Linked DNA regions of Homo sapiens: region 2 is linked to region 1. A link means that fine-mapping ties the variant in region 1 to the expression of a gene that starts in the linked region. Tissue or cell type: tibial artery. Region 1 holds a variant in brackets; the other region holds the start of a gene. All regions are shown on one strand. Distances are between the middles of the regions.

Evidence for each region.
Region 2: it holds the start of TMEM106A, and the variant in region 1 is fine-mapped to the expression of TMEM106A in tibial artery (GTEx, PIP 0.97).

The regions. Positions count from the first base shown.
Region 1 is chr17:43,185,419-43,190,798 of GRCh38, forward strand. NBR1 (NBR1 autophagy cargo receptor) reads left to right here. Exons shown (of 21, transcript NM_005899.5): 6 at 832-1,026; 7 at 3,624-3,701; 8 at 4,170-4,384; 9 at 5,191-5,358. Among named protein-coding and RNA genes, the nearest start is that of NBR1, 17 kb to the left of the region's middle. The variant G/A (reference allele first, on the strand shown) is at 2,052.
Region 2 is chr17:43,208,636-43,214,015 of GRCh38, forward strand. TMEM106A (transmembrane protein 106A) reads left to right here and starts at 3,240. Exons shown (of 9, transcript NM_145041.4): 1 at 3,240-3,287; 2 at 3,592-3,759; 3 at 4,386-4,617; 4 at 5,193-5,256. The coding sequence starts at 4,407. NBR1 (NBR1 autophagy cargo receptor) reads left to right here. Exons shown (of 21, transcript NM_005899.5): 21 at 1,266-3,053. The coding sequence ends at 1,439.

The DNA of each region.
Region 1 (5,380 bases):
GCCAGGTATGGTGGTGCGCACCTGTAGTCCCAGTTACTCAGGAGGCTGAGGTGGGAGGATAGTTGAACTCAGGTGTCCAAGACCAGTCTGGGCAACACAGTGAGACTCCTGTCTCCAAACTAAAACAAAAACCTTAGCCAGGTGTGGTGGCATGCGCCTGTAATCCCAGCTACCCGGGAGGCTGAGGTGGGAAGATCGCTTGAGCCCAAGAGACAGGCTGCAGTGAGCCATGCACTGCATTCCAACATGGGTGACAGAGCAAATTGCCATCTCAAAAAAATAAAAATAAATTTCTAGGCTGGGCACGGTGGCTCATGCCTGTAATCTCAGCACTTTGGGAGGGCGAGGTGGGTGGATCACCTGAGGTCGGGAGTTCGAGACCAGCCTAGCCAACATAGTGAAACCCCATCTCTACTACAAATACAAAAATTAGCTGGGTGTGGTGGTTGGCACCTGTATGTAATACCAGCTACTTGGGAGGCTTAGGCAGGAGAATCGTTTGAACCCAGGAGGCGGAGGTTGCAGTGAGCCAAGACCGTGCCATTGCACTCCAGCCTGGGCAACAAGAGCAAAACTCCGTCTCAAAAATAAATAAATAAATAAATAAATAAATAAATAAATAAATAAATAAATTTCTAGTTAACATTCTTACCAAAGAAATAGCAAGTTGAGTGTAAACATTACATTTGTTGTTGGATTTAATAAAGCAAACACAAATCCTAGTATTTTCTAGCATAACTTACCACACTCTTCTGTTTTGATGTCTTTGAAATGTTATTTAGGAGAAGATAATCACGTCGCATGTTTTTGTTTCATAATGTATGCTCTTAGATGGCAGTTAAACAGGGAAACCAACTGCAGATGCAAGTCCACGAAGGGCACCATGTCGTTGATGAAGCCCCACCCCCAGTTGTAGGAGCAAAACGACTAGCTGCCAGGGCAGGGAAGAAGCCACTTGCACATTACTCTTCACTGGTGAGAGTCTTGGGATCAGACATGAAGACCCCAGAGGATCCTGCAGTGCAGGTATGAAGGGTATGGCCCAGTCTATCCAATATCGTTTCTTTTTTCTTTTTTAAATAAAGCTGAACAGGTTTCTTTATTTTATTTTTTTATTATACTTTAAGTTCTGAGATACATGTGCAGAATGTGCAGGTTTGTTATATAGGTATACATGAGCCATGGTGGTTTGCTGCACCCATCAACCTATCATCTACCTTAGGTATTTCTCCTAATGCTATCCCTCCCCTATCACCCCACCCCCTGACAGGCCCCCGTGTGTGATGTACCCCTCCCTGTGTCCATGTGTTCTCATTGTTCAACTCCCACATATCAGTGAGAACATGCTGTGTTTGGTTTTCTGTTCCTGAGTTAGTTTGCTAAGAATGATGGTTTCCAGCTTCATCCATGTCCCTGCAAAAGACATGAACTCATCCTTTTTTATGGCTGCGTATTATTCCATGGTGTACATGTGCCACATTTTCTTTATCCAGTCTATCATTGATAGGCATTTGGGTTGGTTCCAAGTCTTTGCTATTGTGAATAGTGCTGCAATAAACATACGTTTGCATGTGTCTTTATAGCAGAATGATTTATAACCCTTTGGGTATATACCCGGTAATGGGATCGCTGGGTCAAATGGTATTTCTGGTTCTAGATCCCTGAGGAATCGCCACACTGTCTTCAACAATGGTTGAACTAATTTACACTCCCACCAACAGTGTAAAAGCATTCTATTTCTCCACATCCTCTCCAACATCTATTATTTCTTTTTTTTTGAAACGGAGTCTCACTCTGTTGCCCAGGCTGTGGAGTGCAGTGGCGCGATCTCGGCTTATTGCAAGCTCTGCCTCCCGGGTTAACACCATTCTCCTGCCTCAGTCTCCTGAGTAGCTAGGACTATAGGCACCTGCCACTACGCCCAGCTAATTTTTTTTATTTTTAGTAGAGACAGGGTTTCACCGTGTTAGCCAGGATGGTCTCGATCTCCTGACCTCATGGTCCGCCCGCCTTGGCCTCCCAAAGTGCTGGGATTACAGGCGTGAGCCACC[G/A]CGCCCGGCCTCCAACATCTATTATTTCCTGACTTTTTTTTTTTTTTTTTTTTTTTTGAGACAGAGTCTTGCACCTTCGCCCTGGCTGGAGTACAGTGGCGTGATCTTGGCTCACTGCAACCTCTGCCTCCCAGGTTCACGTGATTCTCCTGCCTCAGCCTCCCGAGTAGCTGGGATTACAGGCACACACCACCACACCTGGCTAATTTTTTGTATTTTTAGCAGTGACAGGGTTTCAGTATGTTGGTGAGACTGGTCTGGAACTCCTGACCTTGTGATCCGCCCACCTCGGCCTCCCAAAGTGCTGGGAGTACAGGTGTGAGCCACCATGCCCAGCCCTGTTTCCTGACTTTTTAATGATTGCCATTCTAACTGGTGTGAGATGGTATCTCATTGCGGTTTTGATTTGCATTTCTCTTTTTTTTTTTTTTTTTTTTTTGAGATGGAGTCTCACTCTGTCGCCCAGGCTGGAGTGCAGTGGTGCAATCCGGGCTCACTGCAAGCTCTGTCTCCCGGGTTCACGCCATTCTCCTGCCTCAGCCTCTCGAGTAGCTGGGATTACAGGCGCCCACTACCACGCCTAGCTATTTTTTTGTATTTTTAGTAGAGATGGGGTTTCAACATGTTAGCCAGAATGGTCTTGATCTCCTGACCTCGTGGTCCACCCGCCTCAGCCTCCCAAAGTGCTGGGATTACAGGCGTGAGCCACTGCGCCCGGCCTGATTTGCATTTCTCTAATGACCAGTGATGATGAGCTTTTTTTCATAGGTTTGTTGGCCGAATAAATGTCTTCTTTTGAGAATTGTCTGTTCATATCCTTTACCCACTTTTTGATGGGGTTGTTTTTTTCTTGTAAATTTGTTTAAGTTCCTTATAGATTCTGGATATTAGCCCTTTGTCAGATGGATGGATTGCAAAAGTTTTCTCTCATTGTGTAGGTTGCCCGTTCACTCTGATGATAGTTTCTTTTGCTGTGCAGAAGCTCTTTAGTTTAATTAGATCCCATTGTCAATTTTGGCTTTTGTTGCCACTGCTTTTGGTGTTTTAGTCATGAAGTCTTTGCCCCTGCCTATGTCCTAAATGGTATTGCCTAGGTTTTCTTCTAGGGTTTTTATGGTTTTAGATCTTATGTTTAAGTCTTTAATCCACCTTGAGTTAATTTTTGTATAAGGTGTAAGGAAGGGGTCCAGTTTCAGTTTTCTACATATGGCTAGCCAGTTTTCCCAGCACCGTTTATTAAATAGGGAATCCTTTCCCCATTGCCTGTTTCAGTCTATCCAATTTCTAGATTTATTTCTCATTGTCTTTGTTGTAAGATTTGCACATTTATCAGAGATTTGGGAATTAGTGTGCTCCTCTCTCTGACTTTTGAAACTGGTAATAGTTTACTTCTGTAGAAGGGGAGCAGGCTAGAGACTTTGTTTTCCTTTAGTACGCCTTCATACTGTGACTTTTTAAAAAATTATATACTTGTATGATTTCACAAAAGAAACCTCAAAATAATACACTCCAGGAAAAGTATTTTAAATAGAAAAAGTAACCTCTAACATCTCGGCTTGTGTTTTCTCCCAGTCGTTTCCACTTGTTCCATGTGACACAGACCAGCCTCAAGACAAGCCCCCAGACTGGTTCACAAGCTACCTGGAGACGGTGAGTGTTCTGTCTCGCTTGGGTTTTAACTGCGGTGTTGGCACAGGTGGAATGTGGAAGAAATAGAAAACTGAACCCAGGTGGCTGCTGCCTCTAGTACCGGTGAAGAGTGGTAGCTTATAATTTCCAAACTTAGAACAGTTCCAGTCGAGAAAGCTCTAACCTTTGCAGTGAAGTGTCAGAAAAAGAGGGAGTCTAATTCTAAGCATGTAAGGGAGAGGGACAACTCTCTGCTTGAGAAAAAGTTAGAAATTTACTTATCAAAAGGATGTTTTGATATTTTCTTCGAACCAGTTTAGCTGTGGAAGGAATAGACCTTTTGCTATGTTTCTGTCTATTCAGTAGCAGTTGTTTATTGTGTTTTTGTATTATACCAGAGACAGTTAGGTTTCAGATCTATTGATATCTTCACATTTTTTTCTGATATTGGAACTGAGTTTTTTCCCTACCTTCTGCTCCATATTCTAGTTCAGAGAACAAGTGGTTAACGAAACGGTTGAGAAGCTTGAACAGAAATTACATGAAAAGCTTGTCCTCCAGAACCCATCCTTGGGTTCTTGTCCCTCAGAAGTCTCAATGCCTACTTCAGAAGAAACATTGTTTTTGCCAGAAAACCAGTTCAGCTGGCATATTGCTTGCAACAACTGCCAAAGAAGGATTGTTGGTGTCCGCTACCAGTGTAGGTAAGCAGTTGCTTGGGAGTAGCTAGCTAGTGATAGACCTTACAGCTTTTACCTCCCTGGCTTTCTGTGTAGGTAAAGGGAAATTAATTGTACCCTGTTTCTGAGCATTAGATGTTGTAGCTGTGAGTTGGAAGCACAAGCTACTCTTCACCCACATGCTTTGTATGTTGTAACTATTCAGATTGTTGTGTTCAAATGTGCATTTGGATTAGCAAAGCCAGGCAAAATTATGTTCCCCTGAACGGACAAAATTAGATCACTAAGGGTAGTTCCTCGGTTGTTCCAAATGCCTTTTTTTTTTTTTTTTTGGTGACAGGGTCTCTGTCACCCAGGCTGGAGTGCAGGGTGCAATCATGGTTCACTGCAGCCTCACCCTCCCAGGCTCAGACAATCCTCCCACTTCAGCCTGCCAAGTAGCTGGGATCACAGACTGCCTTTTAATTATTTTTTTGGAGATGGGGTCTCCCTATATTGCCCAGGCTAGTCTCAAACTACTGGACTCAAATGATCCTCTTCTCCATGGCCTCCCAAAGTGCTGGGATTACAGACATGAGCCACTGTGCCTGGCCCCATGTACTTTCACATCTTACCTTCCTCCCATAGATTTTCATTTAAAATGGATATGGGTTAAGTGTTATTATCCTCATTTTATTAATGAGGAAAATTGAGGCATGGCATAGTCAGATGGCATGCTCAGGTTACCTGCTAGTTGGTACTGGAGCAAACATAGAAGTATGGTCTTATATCTCCCTACCCCAGGTACTTCCTATTCTGCCATTGTGTATTGTGCCATTCTTTCCCCACAGCCTATGCCCATCCTACAATATCTGTGAAGATTGTGAAGCAGGGCCATATGGCCATGACACTAACCACGTCCTGCTGAAGTTGCGGAGACCTGTTGTGGGCTCCTCTGAACCGTTCTGTCACTCAAAGTACTCTACTCCTCGTCTTCCTGCTGCTCTGGAACAAGTCAGGTAAAACCCTCTACATGGAGAT
Region 2 (5,380 bases), 23 kb after region 1:
AGTTTCAGTATCCCCAGTCTGTGAAATTGGGATAATAACAGAACCAGAGGCCAGGCGAGGTGGCTCACATCTATAATCCCAGCATTTTGGGAGACCAAAGTTCAAGGATCACTTGGGCCCAGAAGTTCAAGACCAGCCTGGGCAACATAGGGAAACCTCATCTCTAGTAAAAAATTTAAAAATTTGCCGGGCGTGGTAGCGCAGACCAGTGGTCCCAGCTATTTGGAAGGCTGAGGCAGGAGGATCACTTGAGCCCAGGAGGTTGAGGCTGCAATGAGCTGTGTTCACACCACTGCACACCAGCCTGGGGAACAGAGTGACACCCTGTCTCAAAAAACAAACAAAACAACAACAACAACAAAACAAGCGTTTAAGGATTTAGGAAGGTAATGCTTCCACCACAGGGCTTGAATGAATGAATGTTAACTTCCTCTTACCTATTCTTGTTTTTTTTTTTTTGAGATGGAGTCTCGCTCTGTCACCCAGGCTGGAGTGCAATGGCGCGATCTCGGCTCACTGCAAGCTCCACCTCCTGGGTTCACGCCGTTGTCCTGCCTCAGCCTCCCGAGTAGCTGGGACTACAGGCGCCTGCCACCACGCCTGGCTAATTTTTTGTATTTTTAGTAGAGATGGGGTTTCACTGTGTTAGCCAGGATGGTCTCAATCTCCTGACCTCATGATCCGCCCGCCTCAGCCTCCCAAAGTGCTGGGATTACAGGTGTGAGCCACCGCACCCAGCCCCTCTTACCTATTCTTTTGGAGGAGAAAAAATCAAGAAGCCTTCCCAGGTTGTAATTTCCCAAGCTGTTTTTTTTGTCCAGCTCCTCTGCATATCTGACAAAATTTCCCATAGCATCTTTCAGTAACACTTTTATCTTGCTCATACTTCCCCCATCATCACAATTACACTTATGTTCACAGGGTCTCTGGGGCTTGCTGTCATTCCTTCATCTGGCCAAAAAATGCTTCTTCCTGAAAGCCCCGAGTGAAGCATTCTCCTGGTTCTAAGTACAGTTCATTAGCTCCCCGGTTTCCCTTTTCTCCTCCTTCAAGTACACAGATAACTAATCTAAAATAGGGCCTTCCCAGTCCGAACCGTTGGTATCAAGTACACAGGAGTGCCATAGCCTTGAATCTAATTACCTAGTACTTTGAATAAATCTGGAAAGACTAGTATGCTTGCAAGATGATACAAATGTATAAAATAAACATTTAAATTATACAGAATTTTTTTTTTTTTTTTTGCTTTGCTTGTCTCTACACAGCCAATAATTTCTGAAGATCAGACAGCAGCCCTGATGGCCCATCTCTTTGAAATGGGATTCTGTGACAGGCAGCTGAACCTACGGCTGCTGAAGAAACACAATTACAATATCCTGCAGGTTGTGACAGAACTTCTTCAGTTAAACAACAACGACTGGTACAGCCAACGCTATTGAGGAGTGACCTTGTATTAAATAACTGCCTGCTGCTCAGAGATGATCTTTATTCTGTCATTGGGGTATGGGATAGAAGCCCTTGCTTATTTTTAATCTGATGAATCTGTATAGAGCCCATCGTTGAGTTACCAAGACAATACCTGCTACAGTATTTTGGGGAGCAAACTAAAGACCAGAACTTAAATTTTCACTTTAGACATTGGATGAATAGTATGAAGACAGTTTTTCAGTTGATTTGGATAAAACTATTTTAGTGCATTGACAAGTGTAACTTCAACTTCATATAGAACCATTTTTCTTTCTGCTTTTATTGAAACTGAGTATTTTTCTTTGGCTAATGTGGATTTTTTATGGGGATATCTGTTAATTTTCAGGTTTTGAAAGACATTAACCTCGGAAGTTGTTTTTAAGAATTATTCTCATAATTCTTATTCTCATAATTTCTGTAATCCACCTCAAGCTTCATAGTTATTTGGCATTGAAATAACACCCAGAGCATGATAGAAATGTTGTTACTCTTCCTCTCTCAAGGAGAAAGTAATTTTCCTGCAATACTTAATAATTGGCACCGTTGCTTTCTAAAGACTCCATGGTGCATTCAAGAGTATCCAACTTCAAGGGAATCTCCGCATTTCAATGAAAGGAGGAAGAGTGTGCTGATAAACCTACCAGCACCTATTGAGCAATGTCTATTATAGTAATTTTGCATACATTTTTATTTAAGGGAAAAAATATAGGTATTGTGAAATATTTTGCTAATCTTATAGAAAAGGAAAAAATCCCGTTATTTAAAGGGAAAAGTAAATTTAACAGTTGCCTTTTTTCTTAATGTCAGGGCAGATCTTATTTTACAGTACAGTGGGGGAAATAGAAACATGTGAAAGGCAAAAGGCAGGCTCCTAAATTAATGTCAGTGAAGTTCAGGGTGGGCAAATGAGTGTGTGTGAGGTATAGGAAATGCTGATGACTTCTTTAATGCTTGAAGTCCGTTCACAGGTATCTAGCCCTAGAATGCCTAGAACAGGAAGAGGCAGCTGGTGTTCTGCAAAACTTGGACAGGGGCAAAGTTGCTGAAAAAGTTTTGGTTTAACCCGAAGATAAGTGGAAAAGAGCTTGTCCATGAACCCAGGTTCTCACTCTGTTTACAGAAGTGTGTTGAGTACAGTTGGTGAAGGAAGAGGTAACAAAAAATGCTAAATATTTTATCCATGAAAATGACTTCCAGAAAAGGAAGAATATGAACCCCAGACCGAAGGGGAAAAGATAGTTAATAGTATTATCTAACCTGGTTGGTATTTGTAATGAATGGTGATTTTAATTAGTCATTAGCCATAATGATGTTTATTTACAGTATAACTCCTGAATGCTACTTAAATAAACCAGGATTCAAACTGCAAGCCAGCCAGGCCGTTCATTATTTAAAACGTTTTAATCGGGGCTTCCGGGTAGAAGGTGGAGCGGCAGGGTGTAATTGGGTTGATGGGTGGGACCTGTCTTGACCATCGGAGTTTTATAATCGAGGGCCAGGAGGGCCCGGGTTGCTCTCCTGGTTATGTATGTACTTGTACATAACCACCTAAAGAATGGTGAAATAAATGTTCTTGGAAATTCCTACCCGGACTGGCTAGTCCTTGCGGAAGCAGCGTCCGGGCCCTCGGGTAACGTTTGAAGAGCTGGCAGCGTCTCAGGCTGCTGCGTGGCGAAGGGGCGGACCGGGGGACGGGGGGGTGGGCCCTTAGGGGCTGGGGCGGGACTTCCCTGGGCACTGAGTCAAAGCTTGAGGGGAGTGTTCGCTCCCGCATTTTCGATTCCACTCTCTTCCGTTTCTGTCGCTGCAGTCGTCCGCGGGTAAGGCCCTCCCTAGACCCTTTATACCTACTTTACCTTTCGGAGGTCAAGACACCTCCTGTTGCCGCCTCCTCGCCCAACACACAGGCGCCCCCCGCACGGGTACCAAGCTTGACTAACGGCCTCTAGGGGTGTGTGGTGGGACTTGAAATCCTCCCTTAATGAAGTCACACCTTCTCCGTCCGCTTCCACCCGGTCGGCCCATGGCAGAGCCCCCATGTAGCCCAGGAATCGGCTTGGCCCTTCGGGGAGGTCAGCGTCCTTACTATCCCCACTCTCCAGTGCGGCACATTCGTTCCCCTAGGACTCCGGCCGGTTGCCGGCCCCAGGCGGTGCTTCTCCCCACCACCGCCCAGCTCAGCTCAGCCCAGCCCAGCCCACTCTGCCCTTAGAGGCCCTTCTCCCCAAAGACGCACTCCAGAAGTCTCGCCCTCGTGCGGCTGAGGAGCCTGGGATCCCAGACCTGAACAAGGTGAGCATCCCTATATTTTAGCCCAGAAAGATCTGTGTGGCTCACTTGCCGGCCTCGTTCTGTCACACAGAGTCCAGATTTAGCCTTGAGTTTTCCTAGTGAAAGACAGACCCTGGTATCACTATGACCCTCCTCAGGCTTTCTTACCCCGCCTCAGAAAGCAGTGAGGTGTCTGCTTTCTCCCAGGGCTTCTTTAGATAGGGGTCTTAACCACACCTGTGACCAGTCTGGCCTCCTCTCTCCTTGATTCAAAGAATCTCTTTTCTGCCCTATCCAACTTCCTTCCCTTAAACTGAATGACAGCTCAGCAACTTTTCCAGAGAAAAATTAAATGCTCTGACAATCACTTATGGAAGTTCCTTAAAGTGAAGTAACTTCTGCTTTTCTTTTGTTTTCCCTTTTGTAGGCAGATTGGTCTCTTTTAAAATAATGAAAGGAGTCGAAATGCATTGAGACTTCTGAGAGTCCCATGTGACCACCCAGTTTTTCACATCCTATCTTCCTTAGGCTTGAGCTTGCTTAAACTGTGGTGAAGCTCCTTGCCAGTCTTGAGAACTTCAAACCAAAATTACATCTGGCGTCAGTGCTAACAAGCTTAGCACTGAACTTTGGTCTTTTCTCATTAGTGAAACCCCCGCCCCTGAAGAATGGGTAAGACGTTTTCCCAGCTGGGCTCTTGGCGGGAGGATGAGAACAAGTCAATCCTGTCCTCCAAACCAGCCATTGGCAGCAAGGCTGTCAACTACTCCAGCACCGGTAGCAGCAAGTCTTTTTGTTCCTGTGTGCCTTGTGAAGGAACTGCTGATGCCAGCTTCGTGACTTGTCCCACCTGCCAGGGCAGTGGCAAGATTCCCCAAGGTGAGTGGCCCAAGGCTCTGGAAATAGCCTGGAATCCAGGGAAAGTTCTTAGCCTGTTGGCCTGGGGCAGCCCCTCTGAGTCTCCTTGGATGGGGTTAGATCTGCTCCCAGCTCTTGACCTCCCAGTCTCAGGCTGGCCAGGGAGATACTTAACTATCCTTGGGTTCCCTGCAAAAACCTGCCCTCCTTCCCTGGTTGTATTCTCCAGCCCCTTGTGGGAAAGAAGGATTCTAGCCACTGTGCTTCTGAGCAACACTGTGTGTCCTAGGATTCATTCAGTTCAGGAAGTTACAAATGAACTTTCCAAAGATGCTGGGCATCTCTGATTTGCTGGTGACTTTCAGAGATTCTTCATACCTATTAGTGGAAATCTCACTTCCATTCTAGAGATGGCAAAGCTGAGCTGCCAACTTTGGTAGCAGAGTCCAGTGCTTCCAGTCCTGCTCTGGGGCAGATGTGGCATGTTTCTAACATTGCTCTATGGTGTGGGTGGAGGCGTGCTTCTGGGAAGCTGGCACAGTAAATATTTGTCACAGTTGCATCTTGGCCCTCCCTCTCACCTTCTCTCTCTCTAGAGCTGGAGAAGCAGTTGGTGGCTCTCATTCCCTATGGGGACCAGAGGCTGAAGCCCAAGCACACGTAAGCCCCCCTTCCTCCCCTAGCTTCACAAGCCATTGCCCCTGGGGGCTGCTCCCTTTGTCTCCCCTGTTTTGATCTCCCTTAATTTCTTCCTATTAGTTCTTCCATAGAAAGCCTGAGCCTC